Linked DNA regions of Homo sapiens. The protein of the gene in region 7 interacts with the protein of the main gene of each other region in a pairwise test. Each region holds a gene or a part of one and is shown on either strand. Other genes may lie near its edges. The genes, in order: SECTM1, WAC, CHST15, MYO1F, SH3BP2, UBXN2B and NLRP12.

Evidence for each region.
Region 1: the proteins of NLRP12 (region 7) and SECTM1 interact in a two-hybrid assay, tested with the Homo sapiens proteins (one large-scale study listed by IntAct).
Region 2: the proteins of NLRP12 (region 7) and WAC interact in a two-hybrid assay, tested with the Homo sapiens proteins (one large-scale study listed by IntAct).
Region 3: the proteins of NLRP12 (region 7) and CHST15 interact in a two-hybrid assay, tested with the Homo sapiens proteins (one large-scale study listed by IntAct).
Region 4: the proteins of NLRP12 (region 7) and MYO1F interact in a two-hybrid assay, tested with the Homo sapiens proteins (one large-scale study listed by IntAct).
Region 5: the proteins of NLRP12 (region 7) and SH3BP2 interact in a two-hybrid assay, tested with the Homo sapiens proteins (one large-scale study listed by IntAct).
Region 6: the proteins of NLRP12 (region 7) and UBXN2B interact in a two-hybrid assay, tested with the Homo sapiens proteins (one large-scale study listed by IntAct).

Annotation. Positions count from the first base shown.
Region 1 is NC_000017.11:82,323,767-82,327,266, reverse strand, and holds part of SECTM1 (secreted and transmembrane protein 1 precursor), read left to right. Parts: 5' UTR 1-26; coding exon 27-120; intron 121-2,376; coding exon 2,377-2,685; intron 2,686-3,500. UniProt on the Homo sapiens protein: May be involved in thymocyte signaling.
Region 2 is NC_000010.11:28,606,118-28,609,617, forward strand, and holds part of WAC (WW domain-containing adapter protein with coiled-coil), read left to right. Parts: intron 1-2,068; coding exon 2,069-2,314; exon of another isoform or gene 2,315-2,325; intron 2,326-3,500.
Region 3 is NC_000010.11:124,041,599-124,045,098, forward strand, and holds part of CHST15 (carbohydrate sulfotransferase 15), read right to left. Parts: intron 3,322-3,500; coding exon 2,982-3,321; intron 850-2,981; coding exon 703-849; intron 1-702. UniProt on the Homo sapiens protein: Sulfotransferase that transfers sulfate from 3'-phosphoadenosine 5'-phosphosulfate (PAPS) to the C-6 hydroxyl group of the GalNAc 4-sulfate residue of chondroitin sulfate A and forms chondroitin sulfate E containing GlcA-GalNAc(4,6-SO(4)) repeating units.
Region 4 is NC_000019.10:8,546,443-8,549,942, reverse strand, and holds part of MYO1F (unconventional myosin-If), read left to right. Parts: intron 1-1,625; coding exon 1,626-1,706; intron 1,707-1,820; coding exon 1,821-1,907; intron 1,908-2,617; exon of another isoform or gene 2,618-3,500. UniProt on the Homo sapiens protein: Myosins are actin-based motor molecules with ATPase activity. Unconventional myosins serve in intracellular movements. Their highly divergent tails are presumed to bind to membranous compartments, which would be moved relative to actin filaments.
Region 5 is NC_000004.12:2,827,585-2,831,084, forward strand, and holds part of SH3BP2 (SH3 domain-binding protein 2), read left to right. Parts: intron 1-21; coding exon 22-90; intron 91-1,908; coding exon 1,909-2,563; intron 2,564-3,500. UniProt on the Homo sapiens protein: Binds differentially to the SH3 domains of certain proteins of signal transduction pathways. Binds to phosphatidylinositols; linking the hemopoietic tyrosine kinase fes to the cytoplasmic membrane in a phosphorylation dependent mechanism.
Region 6 is NC_000008.11:58,410,184-58,414,160, forward strand, and holds the start of UBXN2B (UBX domain-containing protein 2B), read left to right. Parts: upstream 1-1,177; 5' UTR 1,178-1,202; coding exon 1,203-1,286; intron 1,287-3,977. UniProt on the Homo sapiens protein: Adapter protein required for Golgi and endoplasmic reticulum biogenesis. Involved in Golgi and endoplasmic reticulum maintenance during interphase and in their reassembly at the end of mitosis.
Region 7 is NC_000019.10:53,810,815-53,814,314, reverse strand, and holds part of NLRP12 (NACHT, LRR and PYD domains-containing protein 12), read left to right. Parts: intron 1-3,026; coding exon 3,027-3,500. UniProt on the Homo sapiens protein: Plays an essential role as an potent mitigator of inflammation. Primarily expressed in dendritic cells and macrophages, inhibits both canonical and non-canonical NF-kappa-B and ERK activation pathways.

The DNA.
Region 1 (3,500 bases), on a different chromosome or scaffold from region 7:
GACCAGGGGCCCAAGTCCCACCAGCCATGCAGACCTGCCCCCTGGCATTCCCTGGCCACGTTTCCCAGGCCCTTGGGACCCTCCTGTTTTTGGCTGCCTCCTTGAGTGCTCAGAATGAAGGTAGGTCTCGGGGCCCCGCCTCTCTGCTGGGGAAAGGGGGGCCCGGTGGGGGCATGACAGGGGCAGGAGGGGTGGACTGAGGTTGGGTCCAGGTGCCACCAGACCCCCGATAATGACTGACTCTGCAGACCCAGGGCCTGACCATGTGGAGCTGGGCTGCCTCAGGTGGCGGTGAGTGGACCGTGTCCCGCCGTGGGTGGAGGGTGGTGGTGAGTGGGCCGTGTCCCGCCGTGGGTGGAGGGCGGTGGTGCCCGCTGTGGTACCTGGTGGTCACTGTCAGAGCAATTGTGGGGAAGGACCAAGATCACGACCAGTTTCCAAGGGAGAGGGTCTGGGTCAGTTGCGACCTGTGCCATGGCCGGGAACAGACAGCAGCCCTGGCCTGGGGGCTCCTTAGTCAGGCGCACCTCAGGCCTGCCAGGAGTGGATCTGCATTTGAACAGGGTCCCCCAGTGAGATCCTCCCCAGCTCTCTAGATCCCCAACCTGTCAGCAAAGTGACCTGAGGGGCTTTTCTTTTCTTATCTTTTTTTTTTGAGACGGGTTCTACCTCTATCGCCCAGGCTGGACGCCCAGGCTGGAGTGCAGTGGTACAATCACAGCTCACCGCAGCCTCGACCTCCTGGGCTCAGGTGATCCTCCCACCTCAGCCTCCCGAGTAGCTGGGACTACAGGCATGCACACCATACCTGGCTAAATTGTGTATTTTTTGTAGAGATGGGGTTTTGCCATGTTGCTCAGGCTGGTCTCAAACTCCTGGGCTCAAGTGATCCTCCCACCTCGGCCTCCCAAAGTGCTGGGATTACAGGCGTGAGCCACTGAGCCACCCGAGGGGCTTTTAAAAGATGTCAGAGCTCAGCCACATCCCAAACCACATCCCAAAGCAGTTCAGTCAGAATCCTAAGAACGAACAAAAAACAAAACAAAACTGAAAGGGAAGAATCCCAGGTGGAAGAACCCTGGTTTCGGGAGATTCTGCCCCCACCCCCCAACAGTGGTTCCAAAGTGTAACTGGGCTGGGGCACCCCCTGGACAGCCGCCCGCTGCCCTCGGGACGGTGTGAATTTGTGCAGTGGCCTTAGAGGCCCTGCAGTCCCTGAACACTCAGAGCGTCCAGGCAGGCAGCCAGCCTGCTCGTCAGAGGAAACTCAGTCCAGCCCGAAGGCCAGGTGCCCCTGAAGCCCACCTCCTCCCATGGGCACCAAGGCCCCTGGCACTTGCCAGCACATGGCACCCACCATGTGGTTTTGTATTTGGTGAAATGTGGCCAAATGGCGGCTCCAACCAGCATGCTGTGTGCTCCCCGAGAGCTCACCCTGCCGTCCGTCTGTCCGTCCATCCGTCCGTGTCCAGTCACTGGTGGACGCTGACGCAGCAGGGACAGTAGCAGCACCAAGACCTCAGGCTGGTACCATGCTCGGGCCCGACGGCCTGAATCTCAGGCATCCTTGAGCTGGCTGCTGGGGCAAAGGCCCCAGACCCTCTGAGGGAAGCAGCTGCACGGGTCGCTATGGGGCAGGGTTCACCCAGGAGGCGGGAGAGAGAGACTGACACGCCGGCTTGTGTCAAGGACTTGACCTCCCAGGACTGTGGAGCTGTGTATGGAGCTGGCCCAGCAACCTGGAGCTGAGCGGGTGGCCGGGAGGGGAAAGGGAATGTTGGGGGTGGCACAAGCAGGCTGGGCCCCACAAGGACAGGCTGGAACCCATGTCTGCTCTGCTTGCCTCTGAGGCTGGCCTGTGGGTGTCTGCAGAAGCCCTGCCCTTCCTCACGCAGCCGAGCACCTGCACCTGGCCTAGGCCTTGGAGAAACAGGAGGGAGCTGGGGGCGGTGGGGCCTGGCCACTGCTTCCCACGAGGAGGGTGATTCGGCAGGTCAGTGGCAGCACTCCTGCCACAGCGCAGCCGCCCGGCACACACCTGAGGCTCTGACTTCACCCACCCCAGTGGAAATATACAGGGGAGGGAGTTGATAGGAAATGCCTTCGTCCAAGCTGACACACCCCAAGGAACAGACGTGGGTGTGAGCACGCACACACACACACATACACACACACAGAGCCACCCGTCTTTTTTGTTGCTATTTTATTCTTCCCACACGAGATATATGTGCTGATTGGGTCGGGTGGATGTATACATAGTTCACTGTGTCCCTTAGAGGCCCTGTCTCCTGCCCTGGCCCTGGCCCTGGGCACAGCAGCCAGCCAATGCCCTGAGGTCCAGCCCTGATCCGTGTGTGCCTCTGTCTGGCCCTACAGGCTGGGACAGCCCCATCTGCACAGAGGGGGTAGTCTCTGTGTCTTGGGGCGAGAACACCGTCATGTCCTGCAACATCTCCAACGCCTTCTCCCATGTCAACATCAAGCTGCGTGCCCACGGGCAGGAGAGCGCCATCTTCAATGAGGTGGCTCCAGGCTACTTCTCCCGGGACGGCTGGCAGCTCCAGGTTCAGGGAGGCGTGGCACAGCTGGTGATCAAAGGCGCCCGGGACTCCCATGCTGGGCTGTACATGTGGCACCTCGTGGGACACCAGAGAAATAACAGACAAGTCACGCTGGAGGTTTCAGGTGAGGGGAGGCTCGGGGAAGCAAGGGGGAGGGGAGTGAGAGGGGACACGGGGAGGGGAGGGGGCCTGGGCAGGGGGAGGGCTGAGACTGAGAGGGAAGGAGGAGGAAGAAGAGCAGGCATGAGCCGGGCTGCCAGGAGACAGGGTTGGCGGGTAGAGAGTTGGGGTGGAGGCCTCTTGACCTCCTGGGACAGTTCTTCCTTTGGGAGGGGCAGGGGTCAGGCAGGAGGCTCAGGGGGCACAGACCCCACAGTGGGGTGGGACCCACAGAGGGCAGCCGGAGTCCCACAAACAACACAGAACACAAAGCTGCTCCTCAAAGGAGCCCAGTCTGCCTGTCAGGGGTGGGGGCTGCACCCTGCAGCCAGGAAGCCCAGGCACCCCCCGCCTCCCTGCCACCCCCACCCCGGCTGTGTGGGGAAACTGCACCCCAAATACCTGTGCTCTGAGAGGCCCTCCAGACCCGCAGCACCTGGCTTCGAGGCACCTGCCCTCCCTTTACTGGGGTCACCCAGAGGTGCTCAAGGTCGCCCGCGCAGCACCCTTAGTGACCACGAACAGGGGCCTCCCAGGCTGCCACGGTCCTGCCCCGCCCCTCCCACTCCCACTCCCATGTTGTCCACCTCGACAAGCACCTAGACCACACCTGCCCTCGCCACTCCTGTCTTCAGGGCTGGGACCACCCCCGACCCTTCTCTGTCCCCACCCCTCTCCTCCTGCCCTCAGGGGATGCTCGCTGCCCCACTCTCTGCCTCAGCTCCCCCGACACAGGCATGATCACCACCCACTCATGTCCCCACTAGCCCAGCCCACTGC
Region 2 (3,500 bases), on a different chromosome or scaffold from region 7:
CACGGCTTAATGCAGCCACGACTTCGTGGCTCAGGTGGTTCTCCCACCTCAGCTTCCTGAGTAGCTGGGACCACAGGCGCAAGCCACCACAGCTGGCTAATTTTTTGTATTTTTAGTAGAGACGGGGTTTTGCCGTGTTGCCCAGGCCGGTCTTGGAAATCCTGGGCTCAAGCCTTGCAAAATGCTGGGATTATAGGCGTGAGCCACCACGTCCATCTGACAGCAGAATTTTCGCAAGGAAAACATTTATCGTTTTATTTGAGTTTCTTTATGCTTGTCTATGAATCCAGAACAGTAAAGCTGAAAATAATAGGCAGTCTGCTGGATTCAAGCACCTTCCTTTAAAAGTGTATACCCTTACGCAAATAAAAATATCTTAGTCCTTCTGAGTTCATCATGGTTAATCAACACATTTTTGAAATGTACTTAAATCAGCTGTGAGATCCACACTTTAGAGAGCTATTATCCCTAGTTCTTTCGACCATTATAGTAGTGTAAAAAGACTCATAGGGGAGTCTGTTTTCAATAAGCTTGCTAGTACTGTATATATGATCTTGAAAATCTTAAAGAAATAGGTTGTTTCTAGTTTTATACTAAAAGCAAACAGAGTGCTGTTGTGATAGTCTTTGAATTTTCTCCTGATTTACATATATCTGAGTTTCACTGAGGGTGTGTACCTAAAGGGGAATTACTGGGTCATGTAGTGTTCGTATCTTCAACTTTTCTAAATAATGCCAAATTACTTTCCAGTGTGGTTATATCAATTTATTATCCATCAGAAATGTTGAGTAAATGTTCTCATTACTCTTTGCCAACATTTGGTATGTCTGACTTTAAAATTTTTGCATTATGGTGAGTGTAAAGGGTTATGTTGCTTTATTTTACATTGTCCTGATTCTGAATGAAGTTGAGCATCTTTTCTTGAATTTCCTAGGCATTCAAGTTCCTTCTTTGAAATAATGTCTTCTGTACATTTTTCTATTGGGCAGTTTGTCTATTTTGACGTATAGAAATTCTTTAAATAGTCTGATTACCACTACTTTGAATATAATTGTTCTGCTTTTTGTAACTTTACACATCTGCTTGGTGTTATGGATACCTTTCTGTGTTTTCCTCTAAGAGTTTTAAAGACTTAAATACCTACACAAAAGTTCAGTCTACCTTTAACTGGCTTTGTTTTAAATGTAAGTTTTTATATTTGGCAGGGCATGTCCTGCTGGCAGTGTTCTTTTTCTTCAGGTTATGGAATCTTCAGGATTTATGTTACTAGCTTGTCAAATAGTATTAACAGTGCTCTTGGGGCTTTGATTACAGTTACATTAAATCTATATAAATAATTGAAACAACAGCTTTCAAATAATTTTCCATGCGTATTTTATACATCCTTTATTTCTAAATACTATGAGGTGGGTTGTTTTTAATATTAAAGTGTCCTTTTTAATAATCTTAAAATGAAACAAATAGCTCATTGCCTTATATATTGAATTACAAAAGGGAAGTATGTAGTTACAAAACTCAGTTATTAAGTATAAAAGTCTCTTCTCATCACATCTTTAGCCCATTTTGGGTGTAACCACCTTGGTGTACCTACCCTGATTTGTATTAAGACCAGTGTCTTATTGAGGTAGGTTGTTACTGTGGCCATAAACATTTTTCACCTTATTTCATGAGATATAAATTAAATCCTGTAGAATTATATTGTCCTTTTATCCTAATGGAAGCTTATTTGAATGTGTGGTTAATAAATAATTATCTTTGAGATAGCATTGGTGGTAGACAGATTGGTACTTTTCAAATCAGATATGGGTATGATTTACCAGGTTTTATGGCTTCAGGTTATCTAACCTTTCTTGTTCAGCTTTCTTACCTATGAAATAGGGTGAGAAATGTCTAAATCATTATTCTAGTCATGTGAATGTTTACTGAGCATCTTCTGTGTGCTCCAGTGTGTAAGGGTTAAATGAGATTACTTACGTTAGGTGCCTGGCACATGAGAGGTGTTCCTTTGATGTTTGTTCCAATTTTCTCTATTCAGGTAATTTTTCAGGCTGATTATCTTTTTATTTAGAATCTACATCAGGAGACAAACCCGTATCACATTCTTGCACAACTCCTTCCACGTCTTCTGCCTCTGGACTGAACCCCACATCTGCACCTCCAACATCTGCTTCAGCGGTCCCTGTTTCTCCTGTTCCACAGTCGCCAATACCTCCCTTACTTCAGGACCCAAATCTTCTTAGACAATTGCTTCCTGCTTTGCAAGCCACGCTGCAGCTTAATAATTCTAATGTGGACATATCTAAAATAAATGAAGGTAAATCTTCATAACAGTTTTTTAAAAATTTATTTGCATTGTGCAAAGTTATGTAAGTAGTAAAATCCCCAGTTTAGGAATGGTCTTTGTTTTCTTTTGAAATTTATAGTTGAACACTTTTTTTTGTTTTGTTTTTTGTTTTTGGAGTTTGGAAATTTATATCCACTGTAGTTTAAGACCATTGGTAGTATAATTGAGTTAGTGGTGCTTGGATCTTGTGTATATTTTTCAATACTTGTTATGTGTCTGGTAGTTACTGGAGGTAAGCCATTCTATATACATAATGTGTATGGTGAAATTTTACATTAAAACAATCGAGCGTTTGTTGAAATCGGTATTAAAACTTCTGGTATGTTTCTAAAAAACCTGTATAAATAATTACTCAGAATATTTAAAATATGCTAATTACTAGAAAAGTAGGAATTCAGGTAGCTACTTAAAATACTTTCAAAAAATTCTGAGAAGGGAGGAGATAGGTACTAGATAAAATGTTGCCATTTTTTTCCTGGTGAATTGCATTATTTAATTCCAGCCTTGCTTTTCAGTAATGCTACTTACGTTTCAGAATATTTAGTCAGCCACTTTGAAAAAGTATGAATAAAAGTAGATGTGTTAATTTGGAAACTATTCAGATTCACACGTTAATTCCTAAAAGCACTGCAAAATTTTCTGTTGAAAATGATAAATTTTTAGGCCGAGGCGGGTGGATCACCTGAGGTCAGGAGTTTGAAACCAGCCTGACCAAGATGGTGAAACGCTATCTCTAATAAAAATACAAAAGTTAACCAGGCGTGATGGCACATGCCTGTGAATCCCAGCTACTCGGGAGGCTGAGGTACGAGAATCGCTTGAACCCAGGAGACGGAGGTTGCAGTGAGCTGAGATGGTGCCTGTACACTCCAACCTGGCTGACAGAGCAAGACCCCATCTCAAAATAAATAAAAATAAAGTGATCAATTTTTATGTACATTTTCACATAATATACTTAAAAGTAGTGTTAAGTGGTTAAGTTCTTATCCTAAAAATAAAGCTATCTCAGGCTAGTTGGTCATTAGTCTGTTCTTACTGTCCTTAATTTTTTTGTATTTTTATTTTATTCTCTAACCACGCAGTTCTCTTGTGTGGTAGGTAAATGTTTCATTTAGGCAAAGTGGGGCTTTTAGATAGTTTGAGGAGGCCAGATGCA
Region 3 (3,500 bases), on a different chromosome or scaffold from region 7:
TTTACTGTAGCAATCATTTCACTGTCTCTATTTCCATCGAAACATCACAGTATGCTGTACACCTTAAATTATACAATAAAAAATAAATTTTAAAGAGTAAATATGTATGTTTACTTATAAAATATTCTTGTGAATATTTAAAACAAATTATTATTAATCAACCTCACTTTGAATGCCCAAAGGCATGAGGTTGACAGGGGCTAGGCTTTTTAAACAGCAATTAGTTATAGGCGATGTGTCAGAGCTGAGTCTATTTCAGGAGAAGCTGCCTCCGTCTTATATGGTCCCAGTGGCCAGGGATTACAAAAGCCCCAAGCAGCAAATCGATGACTAACCAGTTAACTGCACTTATAATTCCCCCATCCAAACTTATCAGATCAGTACATCAGGAAAAGAAGTCAATATCCCTGCTTAATTTCTTAAAAACAAAGAAATGGCAACTTCTCAAGAAAGCCATCAGCTGTCCTTAAGTCTCCAAAGAATTAGAAAGTCAACATTTCCACTTTATAGTAATGTTCAAGTGATGTGAACATTTTATGTAGTGGTAAGAGTGACAGCCAGGTGGAGAAGTGGAGGCTCAAAAGAAGTTTGCTGCCACCATGTAAATGTTCTGGAGGTGAAGCAGAGCTGGGCTAGGCCTGGAGCCAGAGCCAGGACCCCAGGGAGGGTGCTAGCCCTGCCAGAGTGACACAGACGCCTTACCGATAATGATTGTATTCATCTTGCTCTGCTCCTTTGCAGAGCTGGCCTGCAGTCCTTGATGGATCTGGTGTGCGGCCAGGTCAAAGAGGTCCAGATAATCTTCCACGGGATAGCGGTCTCGCAGCCCATCTCTTAGGCGGACGATTCCTATGAGAACCAAGAAGCAGGAGATACTGAGGACAAAGTTGCTACTGCTGGAGCGATGGCCTCCCAGACAGCAACCAAAGAGAGATGGAAAGGCCTAAAGGGCCTGGCGACAGCAGCAAGAGGCTCAGCCCAGGTAAGCTTCAGAAAGGGCTGCTGGGGATGGGGGTGGGGGTCTATGCGGCCTGGCTACCCACTTCAATCCATGCATGCTTCAAGGGCTGGAAGATACCACCACTAAGCTAGACAGTGGCAGATTAAAGGCTGGAACACCTACTCAAGAGCTAGAAACATGTCTGCTTGGAGGGACAAAGTCTGGGGCTGGTTAACTTGTGCACAGGTGGGACTCGTAAGTGGCTGGGCAGCGATGACACCCAGGATGCATGTGTTGTGTCAAACAGGGAGAGAGGACCGAGGGCTGCCCACAGGAGAGAGAAGGGCAGTATCCTATAAACTCCATGATGCCTTCCTCATGGGGCCCAGCCAGCACCTGCCTGATGTTCTCTCTCCTCCCCCTGTTCAATCAAATACCCTGCCCTTTGTCCAAACAGTAAGGGGAACTGATCATACTCTAGACAGACATGGATTCTGGCATCGGCCACATACAGCTTAAATTCACCCCCTGCCTGAAAAATAAATAAATTTCACTTGCAAACATTTAAAAATCCACTTCCCAACACCACAACTCCTGAAGTCAATGGAAATTGGAAAGAGAACATCCGTGGCCAAAGTAACAAGAGGTTCAAGGTGACATTGAAGACTAGATTCCAGAGGCCCGCCTCTGTTCTTCCTCCTTTCCTGCCGGTAGAAAGCTGGTTTTCATTAAGGGGAAATCACTGTGAGCCTCGGGGGAGCACCCTACAGCAAGGGAGTGTGTTCAGACACGTCCAGCAAATGCATAGGGATGTGAAACCCTGGCTCCTACAGTGGCGGCTGCTAAACCACAAAAGAAACATTTACACTTTAGCTCACTGTAGGACGAACATCAAAAGGATGAAAGCAAACGTTTGTCAGGAAACACATTAAGAGTTGGTCTAGGGAAAACTTTGAAGATTCCCTTCTAGTCAACCTGAGTCCATTACTGGAAAACACCCTCGTGGCCTGCCAGGACTCTGGTTGACAATAGGCACGTATCACCCCTCAGCTCCAGTGACCAAACCTCTCCTGGCACAAGGAAAAGGTTACAGAGAGGAAACAGTGATCTGAGGACCGCAGGGTGCATGGGGTTAAGCTGGAGCAGAGAGGGATGGGCAGTGGTCATGGTAAGCCTGCGGCAAAGGGCTGAGAGCAAGGCCTCCAGAATGATCTCCATGTGGTTATCATATGGAACCCATAAGGCAGATGGGGCAGGTCAGAGAAGCTGAGGCCTGAAGCAACTCAGTCTCCCCCAGGTGCAGTGACTGCAGCTGGAACAGCACATAGCTGAGAACAGCACAGAGCAGAGGAACAGCACAGAGCAGGGGAACAGCACAGAGCAGGGGAACAGCACAGAGCAGGGGAACAGCACAGAGCAGGGAGCAGCACAGAGCAGGGAGCAGCACAGAGCAGAGGAACAGCACAGAGCAGGGAGCAGCACAGAGCAGGGAGCAGCACAGAGCCAAGGAACAGCACAGAGCAGGGGAACAACACAGAGCAGGGAGCGGCACAGAGCAGGGAACGGCACAGAGCAGAGGAACGGCACAGAGCAGAGGACCGGCACAGAGCAGGAAACGGCACAGAGCTTGGGAGCGGCACAGAGCTTGGGAGCGGCACAGAGCTGGGAGCGGCACAGAGCAGGGAATAGCACAGAGCTGGGAGCCAAGAGCCCGGATCACGCCCTTCTTGCTGGCCCTTACTGGCCACTGGCACTTACTGCTGACTGCTCGGGTCATGTGCCCGGGCTTTCGGAACAAGAAGAGCTGCCAGTTCTGACTCGTCCCCGTGTCCTGCACACAGCTGGCAATCAATGCTCACTGCATGGCTGGGAACCGAGTTCCAGACCCTGCTGGGTCTTTGCCTGGGAACAGCCTCCTAACAAGGGAATTGTGCCATCTCTTTCTGCCGCCCTCGCCCCCCAACCCCAGCGCTAACGTTGCGGGAGGAATGAACGAATGAAGGAACGAGACCAGACAGGAGCCCTGGGACCCAGCACTCACCAAAGCGCTTCCGGGTCCACCAGTGTGGCTCCTTGATGGCGGAGAACTTGACCTCAGGGTGCAGCCGCAGGCGGTCATAGAGGTCTGTGGTCCCGCACTTGGGCTGCCCTATGATGTAGAAGTGCGGCAGGCAGCGCAGGCGGAAGTGCTTCCCGTGCGCGTGCGCCAGGTGGCCCCAGAAGGCCTTGCGCAGGGCGTCGAAGGTGGAGCGGAAGCGCTTGGAGTAGAGCACGTAGGAGTTGGTGAGGTAGGGGTCGGTGGTGTTCTGCCCCGAGAACTCCTCGTACCAACAGGGGCTCTTACTGTTTGGAAGGAATTTGTTGGGGATGACTGAAAACATCTGCAAGGAAACAGAGGAGGAGAGACACAGAGGAGGGGAAAATGAGCAAAGACACAATCTAACCGCAATGGGAACCTGCCCTGAGACTGACGACCGTGTTCAAATTTGAACTAATATTTGACAATGATTAACAAATAAAGCAAAACTTGGTAGACGGTCAATGACTGTGCTTTCCTCTC
Region 4 (3,500 bases), about 45 Mb from region 7:
TGTAGTTCTGGCTACTCAGAGGGCTGAGGTTGGGGGATCATTTGAACCCAGGAGGTTGGGGCTGCAGTGAGCTATGATTGCGCTATTGTACTCCAGCCTGGGTGACAGAGCAAGACCCTGTCTCTAAAAAAAACTTTTGGCCAGATGCAGTGGCTCATGCCTGTAATCCCAGCACTTTGGGAGGCTGAGGTGGATGGATCACTTGAGGTCTGGAGTTTGAGACCAGCCTGGCCAACATGGTGAAACCCCCTCTCTACTAAAAATTACCCGGGAGTGGTGGCACATGCCTTTAATCCCAGCTACTTGGGAGGCTGAGGGAGGAGAATCACTTGAACCTGGGAGGTGGAGGTTGCAGTGAGCTGAGATCGTGCTATTGTATTCCAGCCTGGGCAACAGAGAGAGACTCTGTCTCAAAATAAATAAATAAATAAAATAAAAACTTTTTTAATGTATGGAGTCAGCCTGGGCAACATGGCAAAACCCTGTCTCTACAAAAATACAAAAATTAGCCGGGCATGGTGGCTGGTGCCTGTAATCCCGGCTACTCAGGAGGCTGAGGTGGAAGAATCCCTGACCCCAGGAGGTTGAGGCTGTAGTGAGCCATGATCAAGCCACTACACTCCAGCCTGGACAACAGACTGAGACCCTGTCTCAAAATAAAAAATAAAAATAAATAAAGTATAAAATGTATGGCCAGGTGCAGTGGCTCATGCCTGTAATCCCAGCACTTTGGGAGGTCAAAGCGGGCAGATCACCCAAGGTCAGGAGTTCAAGATCAGCCCTGGCCAGCATGGCAAAACCCCGTCTCTACTAAAAATACAAGAATTAGCCGGGCGTGGTGGCGCATGCCTGTAATCCCAGCTACTTGGGAGGCTGAGGCAGAAGAATCTCTTGAATCCTGGAGGCAGAGGTTTCAGTGAGCCGAGATTGCGCCACTGGCATTCCAGCCTGGGCAACAGAATGAGACTCCATCTCAAAAAAAATAGAAAAGAAAAAGCCCCATAAGGTAGTTGCTATTATCAACCCCTTTTAAAGATAAGAAAATAGAGGTGCAAGGCCGGGCGCAGTGGCTCACACCTGTAATCCCGGCACTTTGGGAGGCCGAGGCGGGCGGATCACGAGGTCAGGAGATCGAGACCACAGTGAAACCCCGTCTCTACTAAAAATACAAAAAATTAGCCGGGCGTGGTGGCAGGCCCTTGTAGTTCCAGCTACTTGGGAGGCTGAGGCAGGAGAATGGTGTGAACCCTGGAGGCGGAGCTTGCAGTGAGCCGAGATCATGCCACTGCACTCCAGCCTGGGCGACAGAGTGAGACTCCGTCTCAAAAAAAAAAAAGAAAAAAAAAAAAAGAAAATAGAGGTGCAGAGAGGTTCAGGGGCAGAGTCAGCTCTGGAGTCAGGGACCCTGATACACTGACACTTGGGTTTCTCCTCTGAGTGACTGATTATGGGGTGGGGAGACTGTACACAGAGCCAGGAAGGGCAGAGCTAAAGAGGGCTGGAGGGAAACTGGCATGAGGGGACATCACCCATGAAGTTGGCTAGGCGTGTGTCTAAGGAGTGGTGGGCAGGGGCTTCAGATCTGACCGATGCCCACTGACTTCCTGTCCCCACCCACACCGCAGGCCATCAACCGTGCTATGCAGAAACCCCAGGAAGAGTACAGCATCGGTGTGCTGGACATTTACGGCTTCGAGATCTTCCAGGTACGGCCCCCTGCCTCCAGCCCACATCCTGTCCTCCCTGGGGCAGCCCAGGGTGGCCACAAGAACTTCCAGCACCAGGACATTGAGGGAAGGACCCTTTTCCTCCTTCTGCAGAAAAATGGCTTCGAGCAGTTTTGCATCAACTTCGTCAATGAGAAGCTGCAGCAAATCTTTATCGAACTTACCCTGAAGGCCGAGCAGGTGGGCGGCCAAGCAGTCAGGGATGGGGGATCCTGGGGTGGGGGTGGGGTGGAAGGACCATGAGGATCCCTTAGCAACTAGGGGACACCCCAGCCCTCCCCACCGCGTTCCCACCTCTCTGTGCCAACCTACCCAGGCTCCATAGTGATACTTCCTTCTGCCTCTAAAGCTTTGGGAAGGACCGTGCCTCTTAGTTCATTCATTCAGCAATTATTTATTGAGCACCTGTTGTGTGCCAGGTACTGTTTAGGGTGCTTGGAGACACAGCCATGAACAATAAGGCAATAGTCCCTGCTGTCTTCATTTTGCCCCTCCCCCAGAAGCAGAGCCTGAGGCAAGGATTCAGAGACAAATGGTTTTTCTGGGAGGCAATCCCAGGAAGCTCCAAGAGGAGACTGAGGAAGTAAGTCAGGGATTTTTTTTTTTTTTTTTGAGACAAAGTCTCGTTCTGTCACCCAGGCTGGAGTGCAGTGGCATGATCTCGGCTCACTGCAACCTCCGCCTCCAGAGTTCAAGTGATTCTCCTGCCTCAGCCTCCCGAGCAGCTGGGACTACAGGCACCCACCACCATGCCCAGCTAATTTTTGTATTTTTAGTAGAGACAGGGTTTCATCATATTGGCCAGACTGGTCTCAAACTCCTGACCTCGTGATCCACCCACCTCAGCCTCCCAAAGTGCTGGGATTACAGATGGGAGCCACCATTCCCCGCTTTTTTTTTTTTTTTTTTTTTTTTGAGACAGGAACTCGCTCTGTTGTCCAGGCTGGAGTGCAGTGGTGTGATCACAGGTCACTGCAGTCTACACCTCCTGGGCTCAAGCAATCCTCCCACTTCAGCCTCTCAAGTAGCTGGGACCGCAGGCACACACCATCATGCCTGGCTAATATTTTAAAACTTTTTTGTAGAGTTGGTGTTTCACTTTGTTGCCCAGATTGGTCTTGAACTCCTGGCCTCAAGCAATCCTCCTGCCTTGGCCTGCCAAAGTGCTGGGACTACAGGCATGAGTTAATATGCCCAGTCCTGAGACAGGGATTTTTTTAACAAAGAGAGAGAGAGAGGCTGGGTGCAGTGGCTCACGCCTGTAATCCCAGCACTTTGGGAGGCTGAGGTGGGTGGATCACCTGAGGTCAGGAGTTTGAGACCAGCCTGGCCAACATGGTGAAACCCCATCTCTACTAAAAATATAAAACTTAGCCAGGTGTGGTGCTGGGCACCTGTAATCCCAGCTACTCAGGAGTCTGAGGCAGGAGAATTGCTTGAACCCAGGAGGCAGAGCTTGTAGTGAGTCGAGATTGTGCCATTGCACTCCAGCCTGGGCAACAGCAGAATGAGACCCTGTCTCAAAAAAGAAAAGAAAAAAAGAGAGAGACAGACCGAGCCAGACACAATCACTCACACCTATAGTCCCAGCTATCTAGGAGGCTAAGTTAAGAGGATCGCTTGAGCCTGGGGGTTCAAAGCCAGCCTGGACAACATAGTGAGACCTCATCTCTACAAAAAACATAAAAATTAGCCAGGCATGGTGGTGTGCTCCTACGGTCCCAGCTACTCGGAAGGCTGAGATGAGAGGATCACTTGAACCCTGGAGGTCAA
Region 5 (3,500 bases), on a different chromosome or scaffold from region 7:
CACCCCCCTCTCCCCATGCAGACTATGAGCACGACGATGAGGATGACTCCTACCTGGAGCCTGACTCCCCGGAGCCCGGAAGGCTTGAGGGTAGGTGGGGCGGGTGGGCCCGGGGAGCTCTGGGTGTGTAGGAAGCAGGGGCTGGGACCGGGAGCAGAGCCCCTCCGAGGCTGGGGATGCTGGCCCAGGTACCGCTCTGGGTGGCTTCCGCTTCCCTGCTGTGTCCCAAGTATTATGAGGATTGGAGCAGAAGAGGTGTAGCTGCTGCCACCTCTGCTCATTTCCTCCTCCCACCTCCCAGGAGGAGGGACAGGCACATGGCGATAAGTGGCAGGTGGAGCCGGGGTGGCCCTGGGGGTTAAGCATGGGGAAGGAAGGACGCTGAGGAGCGCGCAGGCTCAGGGCAGGTCCATGTCCCCATGGCTGCCAGCTTGTGTGGACACTGCTGCAGGCCAGGTCGTTGTCCCACCCCACCCCATCCCATCCCAGTGTCCACCTACCTCCTGCAGCACATGGCCTAGTCAAAGAGACAGGCTGATACAGGTGGTCACACGTGGATGACGGAAGCACGAGCTGGGTGGGGAGGACGTGTCTCTGTCCTCCTCTGTCGCCTCCCTCCCTTCCTCCCTCCCTATTGTCTCTCCAGCCCCCTCATCTTGTCAATTTCCTCATGTCTGGGGCTGATCCTTGATCCTTCCATTTTCCCTGCGTCCGCCCTGCCTCCTTGTTTTCCAGCCTCCTGTTCTCACTGACTTGGCCTCTGCCGACCCCAGCCCCTGACCCCGTATCCTCTCTGCCTCCCATCCACTCCCACCTTCAGGCTCCCGGGTCCAGCCCCTCTTCTCCTGCCGCTCCCTCCCTCCTTCCCTCTGGGGTCCCAGTGCCAACAGTCCTTCAGCCCACGAGGGTCTGCGGGCCGCTTGCCTCAGTTTCCTTCCATGCAGAGCTCTTGTCTCACAGTGTTCACCATGCCTGTCCCTTCGCCCACACACTACTGCCTTCCGTCTTAGCCTGGCTGGCCAAGCCTTGGTGAACTCAGACTCCGTCTGCCCAGCCCTGAGCTGCAGCCCAGTGAGGCTAGAGATGGGCCTGGGGAGCCACCAGTGCTCCTGCATGCTACTGCTCCACTCACCCTCCCTCTGTACCCCCTTCATCCTCTCCCCGAGACATTTCTCGTCCAGGACGCCTGTGGCCTCCCCATTCCCAGTTCCAGCGCTCAGTCCTGAGCCACACCAGCCTGGCGCCTGCCCTGTTCCTTGCCAGCCCGTCCTCCAGGCGCCCCGTGCTCCCGGGGTCCTCTTTCTCCTCAGCTCCTGTGCTGGCCCCATGAGGGATACCCGGGACTCAGACCTCACTCCTCTCCCGAATTCCCTGGGTGACAGCCTGGGTCATCTGCAGGCTGCCCGCTCCGAGTCATGTCCAGCCTGGATTTTTGAACTCTGCACACATTCCCTGACCCCGCATCCCCTGGCATCTCCCAGCTTTCTGGATATGTTCTGAGCAAACACGGGCCTTCACCTTCCTCCCAGCTGCTCCCCTCCCCTGTCCTTGGGAATTCCGTCCTCCCTCTCGCTCCAGCCGAGCCCTGAGATCCTTCTTGACTTCTCTTCCTTTCTCTTCCTTCCACCTCTGGGAACCTGATGGGCTCCTCAGGTGTCCTCTAGGCTTCAGGAAGCGTCCACAGGCTGCCATAGGGAGGATGAATGGGGAAGGCTGGGGGTGGTGGGTGGTCTGGGACCCTGGGGAAGGCAGGATGGGAGTGCTGGGTGCTGGGCTGCTGGGTGGGCAGGCTGTGGGGTGGGCCTACCATGGGTTGCACTCCTGGTTGGCCTGGCTGACCACTGCCAGCAGAGGATAGTGTTGGCCCAGTCTCTGTCAGGGTCCAACCCGGGTCTCTTTGCTCTGCAGATGCCCTGATGCACCCACCGGCTTACCCACCACCCCCAGTGCCCACGCCCAGGAAGCCAGCCTTCTCTGACATGCCCCGGGCCCACTCCTTTACCTCCAAGGGCCCCGGTCCCCTACTGCCACCCCCGCCCCCTAAGCACGGCCTCCCAGATGTTGGCCTGGCTGCTGAGGACTCCAAGAGGGACCCACTGTGCCCGAGGCGGGCTGAGCCTTGCCCCAGGGTACCTGCTACCCCCCGAAGGATGAGCGATCCCCCTCTGAGCACCATGCCCACCGCACCCGGCCTCCGGAAACCCCCTTGCTTCCGGGAGAGTGCCAGCCCCAGCCCGGAGCCCTGGACCCCTGGCCACGGGGCCTGCTCCACTTCCAGTGCTGCCATCATGGCCACTGCCACCTCCAGAAACTGTGACAAACTCAAGTCCTTCCACCTGTCCCCCCGAGGACCACCCACATCTGAGCCCCCACCTGTGCCAGCCAACAAGCCCAAGTTCCTGAAGATAGCTGAAGAGGACCCCCCAAGGGAGGCAGCCATGCCCGGACTCTTTGTGCCCCCCGTGGCTCCCCGGCCTCCTGCGCTGAAGCTGCCAGTGCCTGAGGCCATGGCGCGGCCCGCAGTCCTGCCCAGGCCAGAGAAGCCGCAGCTCCCGCACCTCCAGTGAGTTTGTGTGGCGGCTGCAAGCCCTGCCTCCAGCTACAGGGACCCTGGCCTGGCCTCTGACGGGCACTCTGCCCACCTCGCTCCCCTGGCACTCTTAGCCCACGACGGGGTACCAGGTGCAAGGGTAGGAAGGTTCCCGGTTGCCTCCAGTCCGCCTTGGTGGAACGTGGAGCATGTCCATGACTCAGCCCTGAAGCTTGCTGGAAATGCTTTGTTTTTTTTTCTTTTTGAGACAGGGTCTCACGCTGGCAACCAAGCTGGAGTGCAGTGGTGCGATCTCAGCTCACTGCAACCTCCACCTCCGGGGTTCAGGTGATTCTCCTGCCTCAGCCTCCCAAGTAGCTGGGACTACAGGCACCTGCCAACACGCCCGGCTAATTTTTGTATTTTTAGTAGAGACAGGGGTTTCACTATGTTGGCCAGGTTGGTCTTGAACTCCTGGTCTCAAGTGATCCGCCTGCCTCGGCCTCTCAAAGTGTAGAGATTACGGGCGTGAGCCACCGCGTCCTGCTGAAATGCTTTCTGCTTTATTTCTGGGAAGTGCCAGGAGACCAGTTTGTCCCCCACTCCCACAGAGTTACGCCAATGGCTGTGGTCAAAGGCATCTGGGACCCCAGGTGGGCTTCCTGCCTTGCCTGGCAGGCAAAGGGTCCAGGAACTGGAGGGGCAGGTTTCGCATGGGTGTGCTGGCCGGCACGCGCACCCCCGAATGCCCTTGCCCACGGTGCCCTTCTCCCAGGGCTCTGCGAACACCTCTGAGATGCCTGCTGCCTGTGTGGAAGTGCCTCTGAGCAGCCCTTGTCACACTCGTGGTTCTAGTTCACCAAGGGCTGCAGAGATGCAGATGTTCGGAAGTCACGTTTTTCCATGACTGTGGGGATAGCGGTTCCAGGGCTCAGCCTCACCCACAGGCTGGCCTCCCATGCTGGCGTGG
Region 6 (3,977 bases), on a different chromosome or scaffold from region 7:
GTGGGCAGATCATGAGGTCAGGAGATCAAGACCATCCTGGCCAACATGGTGAAACCCCGTCTTTACTAAAAATACAAAAGTTAGCCGGGCATGGCGGCACGCACCTGTAGTCCAAGCTACTCGGGAGGCTGAGGCAGGAGAATTGCTTGAACCCGGGAGGTGGAGGCTGCAGTGAGCCGAGGTCGCGCCACTGCACTCCAGCTTGGGCGACAGAGCGAGGCTCCGTCTCAAAAACAAAAAGTGCCTAGGATAAGAAGACCAGAGTCTAAATCAATTTCAGTTGAATGACGAGGGCTTGATAGTCTCGAGATCTGCTTTTTTTCTTTTTTGAGACGGATCCTCCCTGTGTCGCCAGGCTGGAGTGCAGTGGCGCGATCTCGGCTCACTGCAACCTCCGACTCCCTGATTCAAGCGATTCTCCTGCCTCAGTCTCCCCAGTAGCTCGGACTACAGGCACGCTCCGCCACGCCCAGCTAATTTTTGTGTATATATATATATATATATGTGTATATATATGTATATATATGTGTATATATATATGTGTGTGTATATATGTGTATATATATATGTGTGTGTATATATATATATATATATATATATATATATATTTTTTTTTTTAGTAGAGAAGGGGTTTCACCATGTTGGCCAGGATGGTCTCGATCACCTCGTCCGCCTCGGCCTCCCAAAGTGCTGGGACTACAGGCGTGAGCCACAGGCCCGGCAGAGTTCTGCTTTTAGCAAATTATTCCAAGCACTTTTTACGGTGTTTTTCACTCTCAGTGCTAATTCACGCTGTGGTGACGATGTACCATCCAATCCTTGATAGGAAAGATCAGAGAATCTGACCAAGACTAGATGGAGAGGTTGCAATTTTTCATCAGATGAAAAATCCAGAGGATGTTTTCATTGTTGAGCTAAATGAATCTGCAAGTCTATGCTGCCCTCTAGGGCGGCCTACAGTGCCTTTAGGCGAGTAGCAGGAGCAACACAAAACTTAACAGAGGTTTCCCTGCGGAGAAACTCCCTTTAAGAAAAAAGGAGAAACCAAAAAGGTGGGCCAGCACCGGAAGCGGGGGCGCGGGTTCGGGTAGCGGGGACGCGCACGCACCTTGCGCGTCTTCGCCCCTCCTGCGGTTGCCAGGCAACCGGCCCCGGAAGTTGCGGCAGGTGCGTCCGCAGCGGGCGCCGCTAGCCAGCGGAAGATGGCGGAGGGCGGAGGCCCTGAGCCCGGCGAGCAGGAGAGGAGGTCTTCCGGGCCGCGGCCTCCGAGCGCGCGGGATTTGCAGGTGAGGCGAGGAGCCGGGGGAGGGAGCGCGGCGGTGGACGCGGGCTGGTGACGGCGCGGGCTGGTGCGAGTTGGAGGCCACCTCTGGCCTCGGCGGAGCCTTTCCCCGACCCCGTCTGGGGATAGAATCCGGCGCCCGGTCTCCCGATGTCGGGTCTTGACACTGTGGTGGTCGTGAACACAAGTGCCCAAGCCTCCAGCGCTGGTGCTTTGTCTCCCTTCCACCCCACGTATGATGTAAAAATAGCTATTCGTTTAGAATGACATTTTGCGGGGTCAGTTGGTCGGTTCACGGGTTGATGCTTCCTTCTTGAGACTTACTCCAGAAGAAAGGTTACTGTGGCCGCAGGGAAGTAGACAGTCACCTGAACAGTAATGATACGTGATTTGTTCTTTTTTGTCTTGGATGCTATTTCTGACTTGCTTACTTAAATATAAAAATGGTTCCATTTTATCAGGTAGGTTTTTCTTTTAAAGGGGTGAAGGAAAGCGATGCACTCTATGCCCATACAGCCTAGTTGTCTAAGCTGTGGTCTTTAAAACATTGCACTGAAGAAACTGGGAAATAAAATTTCGTAATGTTGTGTAGGACACTAGTATTAGTTAGCTAAATAGTAGCGCACCAAATCCCGTTTTATCAGATACTAACGCCACTTTTCTCATTTTAGGCGTTTTTGTGTCTCATTATAAGATTATTGATAAAAATTTGACAAGTAAATATCAGTAAGGAGATACTAAGGAGAATCTTGGTAGAACAGTTTTACTGTATTACTTTACAACCACACTTCATTCTAATGTGAACAAACCACCATCCATTGTAACATACTGCTGAGCTTTGCGAATGTGGAAATAAGGACATCAAATCCTTAGTCGGTGCTGAACTCTATTGATGGGTAGGTATGTAAGTGTAAAAGACAGTTCTACCTTTTGGAAGCCTACAGATTTCTTCGGAGAAATAGGGTATGAATACTTAGCATAACATTTTAAGATGGAGTATGATTGGGTGCCAAAATAAGCAGTGCATAAAGCGAAGAATTTGGAGGCTGGAGAGATCAGTGTAACATTAGGAGGTGAACTTAATGTAGAATAGTTCCAGCTCCCATAGTTGGTTCAGTAGTAGTAAACAGTATCAAGGGATAGGAAGCTATTGTGTACCTCATCTTTCCTATTATAAACCCACATCACTAAGAGGCAGCATGGAGTTAGTAGTCCCACCAATTTTGGTTTGCCTCTTAGTCCTGCTACTTAGTAGTTTTGTGAACTTAGGAGAAATGTCTTAACCTGTCTGATCCTGTGTCTTCATTTGTAAACTGAGGAAGGTCAGGGTGCTGGTGGTGGTGTAAGGATTAAATAATGTTATAAAGGGCCTATGCAAAATTCCTACATTATCCTGGCTCAGTTGTTGCTGGGCAAATATTTGATTCCTTTTTCCTCAGGAGAAAGATGCTATAACTTTCCCTGGCTAGTCAATTCTAATATCATTAAAGTTAATAGAGTGTGTAACTTAATGTCCTTTCCCTAATTTAAATCCATTTCTTCTTTTTATGTGAAAAGTGAGAACAGCTTGCTTAATGACCACCTGATTCTTGGCAAATTGTTTGCAGTCTTAATCCAGTGGATCAAAGTACGATTAATGTTTGGAGATACTCTGGTAGATGTTGCTAATTGTGAGAATGCCTTCATTTCCACCCTAAGTTATGATGGGGATTTTTTTTTTCATCTCCTGTCTACTTGTTGTAGGTTAGGGCAGTAGGAAGATAACTGATTTCTTTATGAATGTGATTTGGTGTATCAAGTACAGTATCTAAGTATTGATAATCTTTCCTTTAGAACTTAATATGAATGTGAAGAACTTGCAAAGAAACTTGAAAACAGCCAAAGGGATGGCATATCAAGAAATAAAGTATGTATCAAAAGTTTAAAAGAATTAAATAATGTTCTTCCCAAATGGTACCTTGGATATTGATTATTTATAGATTATCTTGTTACCGTTTAATCTAGACATGCTTTTCTTAAGAGTTACGCAGTTCGTGCAGCTTTCAGTAGATATTTCTTACTTCCCTAACAGCTTGCTCTAAGAGTCTTTCAGAGTGAGTAAAGGGGCAACATATTACCAATTGGAACAAGCAGAATTACCCCTGAGTAAGTGTATCTTAGCTGCCATGCAGTGTAGGGTTTGTCAGCATCTGAATCAGGAGGGAGTGTTCCAGGTACCACCAGAGAAAAGCTGCATAGTTGCTTCCCAAAAGGCCTCCCAGCCCTGGGAGCCCCCAGGTTACAAACTGCAGACTCGGAAATGTTTTTTTGCATATCAGAGTAGATTTTCATAGCTCCCTTCATCCCCCTCAAATAAGGAGATGGTCATGGGGAAAGTTAGGGGTGGGATTGTTAGTGGCAAAACTAAGCCCAAAACCTCACCAGTGTTCAATAGTATTTCTGAATTGCTTTCTCTTCTGGTGTCCCTCAGCCCGCCACACACATGTTCATTAAGGTATTTAGTTGTATACTCTGTCCCAGTTTTCCTCCACATATTATCTGTTTCTACATAGGTTGGACGGGGAGGGAGTGGGAACAGGGATAACTTCAGTATTGTTAGGGTTAGGATTGGATTTGTTAGGATGGACTCAATAGTGGGTACTATAAATGAGAAGAATTAAAATGTCTGATAGCTGTTCTGATAACTGTGTTGCCA
Region 7 (3,500 bases):
CACATCCACGTAACCCACTGGTCAGTACTGGGGAATCTGCCCATTCTCAGAGCAACCACTGACAGAGGGGAACGAGGTTACTCATGACTGATTTAGCAAAACCATAATTCATCCTCTGAGGCTTGTGAAGGGGCAGGATTCACCACTCACTCGAGTCATGAATCAGCATCCACCAACCAAACAGAATCAGGTTTGCTGGCAGGGAAGAAACCGGGGTACAGTCTGCTGGGTAGACAGCAACACTGTTAACAATGCCACAAATGTTTCTGGCTATTTTTTTCAAGGGGAGCATGAAATGAATCTAGTCTCCAGCTCTACTAAAGTAGAATAAGAGTGGGTTCACCAGCTGAGCAAGGTGGCTCACGCCTGTAATCCCTGCACTTTGGGAGGCCAGGCTCTGAGACCAGCCTGGGCAACAAGCAAGACCCCATCTCTACAAAAAAAAACAAAAAATCGAACATTAGCTGGGCATGGAAACTTGTGCCTGTAGATCCAGCTACTCAGGAGGCTGAGGTGGGAGGATTAGTTGAGCCCAGGAGGTTGAAGTTGCAGTGAGCCAAGGTCACGCCACTGCACTCCAGCCTGGGGGGAGTGAGAAAGACCCTGTCTCAAAAAAAAAGGCGGGAGAGGGGTACAAATATTGTATGATTCCACTTATCTAAGGCACCTAGAGTAGTCAAATTCAGAGGCGGAAAGTAGAACAGCAGTTGCCACGCCCGGCATGGTGGCTCACGCCTGTAATCCCAGCACTTTAGGAGGCTCAGGCGGGCAGATCATGAGGTCAGGAGATCGAGACCATCCTGGCTAACACGGTGAAACCTTGTCTCTACTAAAAATACAAAAAAATTAGCCAGGCGTGGTGGCAGGCACCTGTAGTCTGAGCTACTTGGGAGGCTGAGGCAGGAGAATGGTGTGAGCCTGGGAGGCGGAGCTTGCAGTAAGCCGAATCGTGCCGCCGCACTCCAGCCCAGGTGACAGAGCAAGACTCTGTCTCAAAAAAAAAAAAAAAAAAAAAGAAAAGAAAAAAAAAAAAGAATAGCAGTTGCCAGGGAGAGGAGAAATTATGAGTTAATATTTAATGGATATGGAGTTTCTGTTTAGAATGCTGAAAGCATTCTGGAAATAGACATTGGCGGCCAGGCACAGTGGCTCACGTCTGTAATTCCAGCACTTTGAGAGGCCGAGGCGGGCAGATCACTTGAGGTCAGGAGTTCGAAACCAGCCTGGCCAACATGGTGAAACTCCGTCTCTACTAAAAATACAAAAATCAGCTGGGTGTGGTGGCGAGCACCTGTAAATCGAGTTACTCAGGAGACTGAGGCAGGAGAATCACTTGAGCCTGGGAGGCGGAGTTTGCAGTGAGCCTAGATCATGCCACTGCACTCCAGCCTGGGGGACAGAGCAACACTCTGTCTCAAAAAAAAAAAAAAAAAGAGATATTGATGATTGCACAACATCGTGAACTTAGTGTCACAGAGTTGTACGCTTTAAAGTGGTTAAAATGGTAAATTTTATGTGTATGTCACTATAATTAAAAGTACACATATTTGTTTTGAAAATTTTAGTATCAAACTCAGATTCTTTTTTTTAAGCTTCTCTCAGGCAGCTATCATGGGCCTCTGCTGGCATCCAATACCAAGGGATGCATTTGTATCCAGACCAGGGTTTCTCCACATTGGCACTGTTGGCATTTCGGGGCCAGAGCGTTCTTTGCTATGGGGTCGTCCTGTGGTTCCTGGGATGTTGAGCAGCACCTCTGGCCTCTATCCACTATGTGGCAGTAGTACTTTCCCAGTTGTAACAACCAACCCACTTGTCCCGTTGCCAAATGTCCCCTGGGGAACTAGGGGACACAGTCACCCCAATTAAGAACATTGTTCTAGATTTTTTTTTTTTTTTTTTGAGGCAGAGTCTCACGCTGTCGCCCAGGCTGGAGTGCAGTGGGGCGATCTCTTACAGGTGTGAGCCACTGCACTTAGCCCAGGGACTGCATTTCTAACAAGATTGCTGCATGATATGTATGCGTCTTAAAGTTGGAGAAGCACAGCCAGGCATGGTGGTTCATGCCTGTAATCTCAGCATTTTGCGGGGCTCAGGCAGGAGGATTGTTTGAGGCTAGTAGTTGTAGACCAGCCTGGATAACACAGCAAGACCCTGTCTGTACTGAAAAAAAAAAAAAGTTTGAGAAGCACTGCTCCCAAGTTTTCTGTGCCCCCTTTGTTTTCTCTTTCTTTTGTTTTTATAGAGACAGGGTCTCACTATGTTGCTCCGGCTGGTCTCAAACTCCTGAGTTCAGGCGATCCTCCCACCTGGACCTCCCAAAGTGCTGGGATTACAGGCGTGAGCCACCGCACCTGGCTTGTGCCCCCTTTGAAAAAAGGCAGATTCATGTCTGCACTATCTGGTAATGTACCCGTTCTATAAATCCTTTGCTGAAAGTCACTTTGTGGGGCTGGACACAGTGGCTCATGCCTCTAATCCTAGCACTTTGGAAGGCCGAGGTGGGCAGATCATGAGGTCAAGAGATCGAGACCATCCTGGCCAACATAGTGAAACCCCGTCTCTACTAAAAATACAAAAATTAGCCAGGCCTGGTGGCATGTGCCTGTAATCCCAGCTACTCGGGAGGCTGAGACTGGAGAATCACTTGAACCCAGGAGGTGGATGTTGCAGGGAGCACACCATTGCACTCCAAGCTGGGCAACAGAGCGAGACTCCATCTAAAAAAAAAAAAAATTAGCCAGTCTTATAACCTAGTCTCAAAACAAATAAATTATTTTAATTAAAAAAAATTTTTTTTTGAGATGGAGTCTGGCTCTGTTGCCCAGGCTAGAGTGCAGTGGTGCGATCTCAGCTCACTGCAACCTCCACCTCAGGGGTTCAAGTGATTCTCCCATCTCAGCCTCCTGAGTAGCTGGAACTACAGGCACACACCTTCTTTGAGCCACATGAGGAGCGCTTTACCTCGTGAACTCATTAGAGGCTGCTGATGAGTCTTCCACAAAACCTTCATTCCTCTCCCCTAGATCCCCAGGAAACCTACAGGGACTATGTCCGCAGGAAATTCCGGCTCATGGAAGACCGCAATGCGCGCCTAGGGGAATGTGTCAACCTCAGCCACCGGTACACCCGGCTCCTGCTGGTGAAGGAGCACTCAAACCCCATGCAGGTCCAGCAGCAGCTTCTGGACACAGGCCGGGGACACGCGAGGACCGTGGGACACCAGGCTAGCCCCATCAAGATAGAGACCCTCTTTGAGCCAGACGAGGAGCGCCCCGAGCCACCGCGCACCGTGGTCATGCAAGGCGCGGCAGGGATAGGCAAGTCCATGCTGGCACACAAGGTGATGCTGGACTGGGCGGACGGGAAGCTCTTCCAAGGCAGATTTGATTATCTCTTCTACATCAACTGCAGGGAGATGAACCAGAGTGCCACGGAATGCAGCATGCAAGACCTCATCTTCAGCTGCTGGCCTGAGCCCAGCGCGCCTCTCCAGGAGC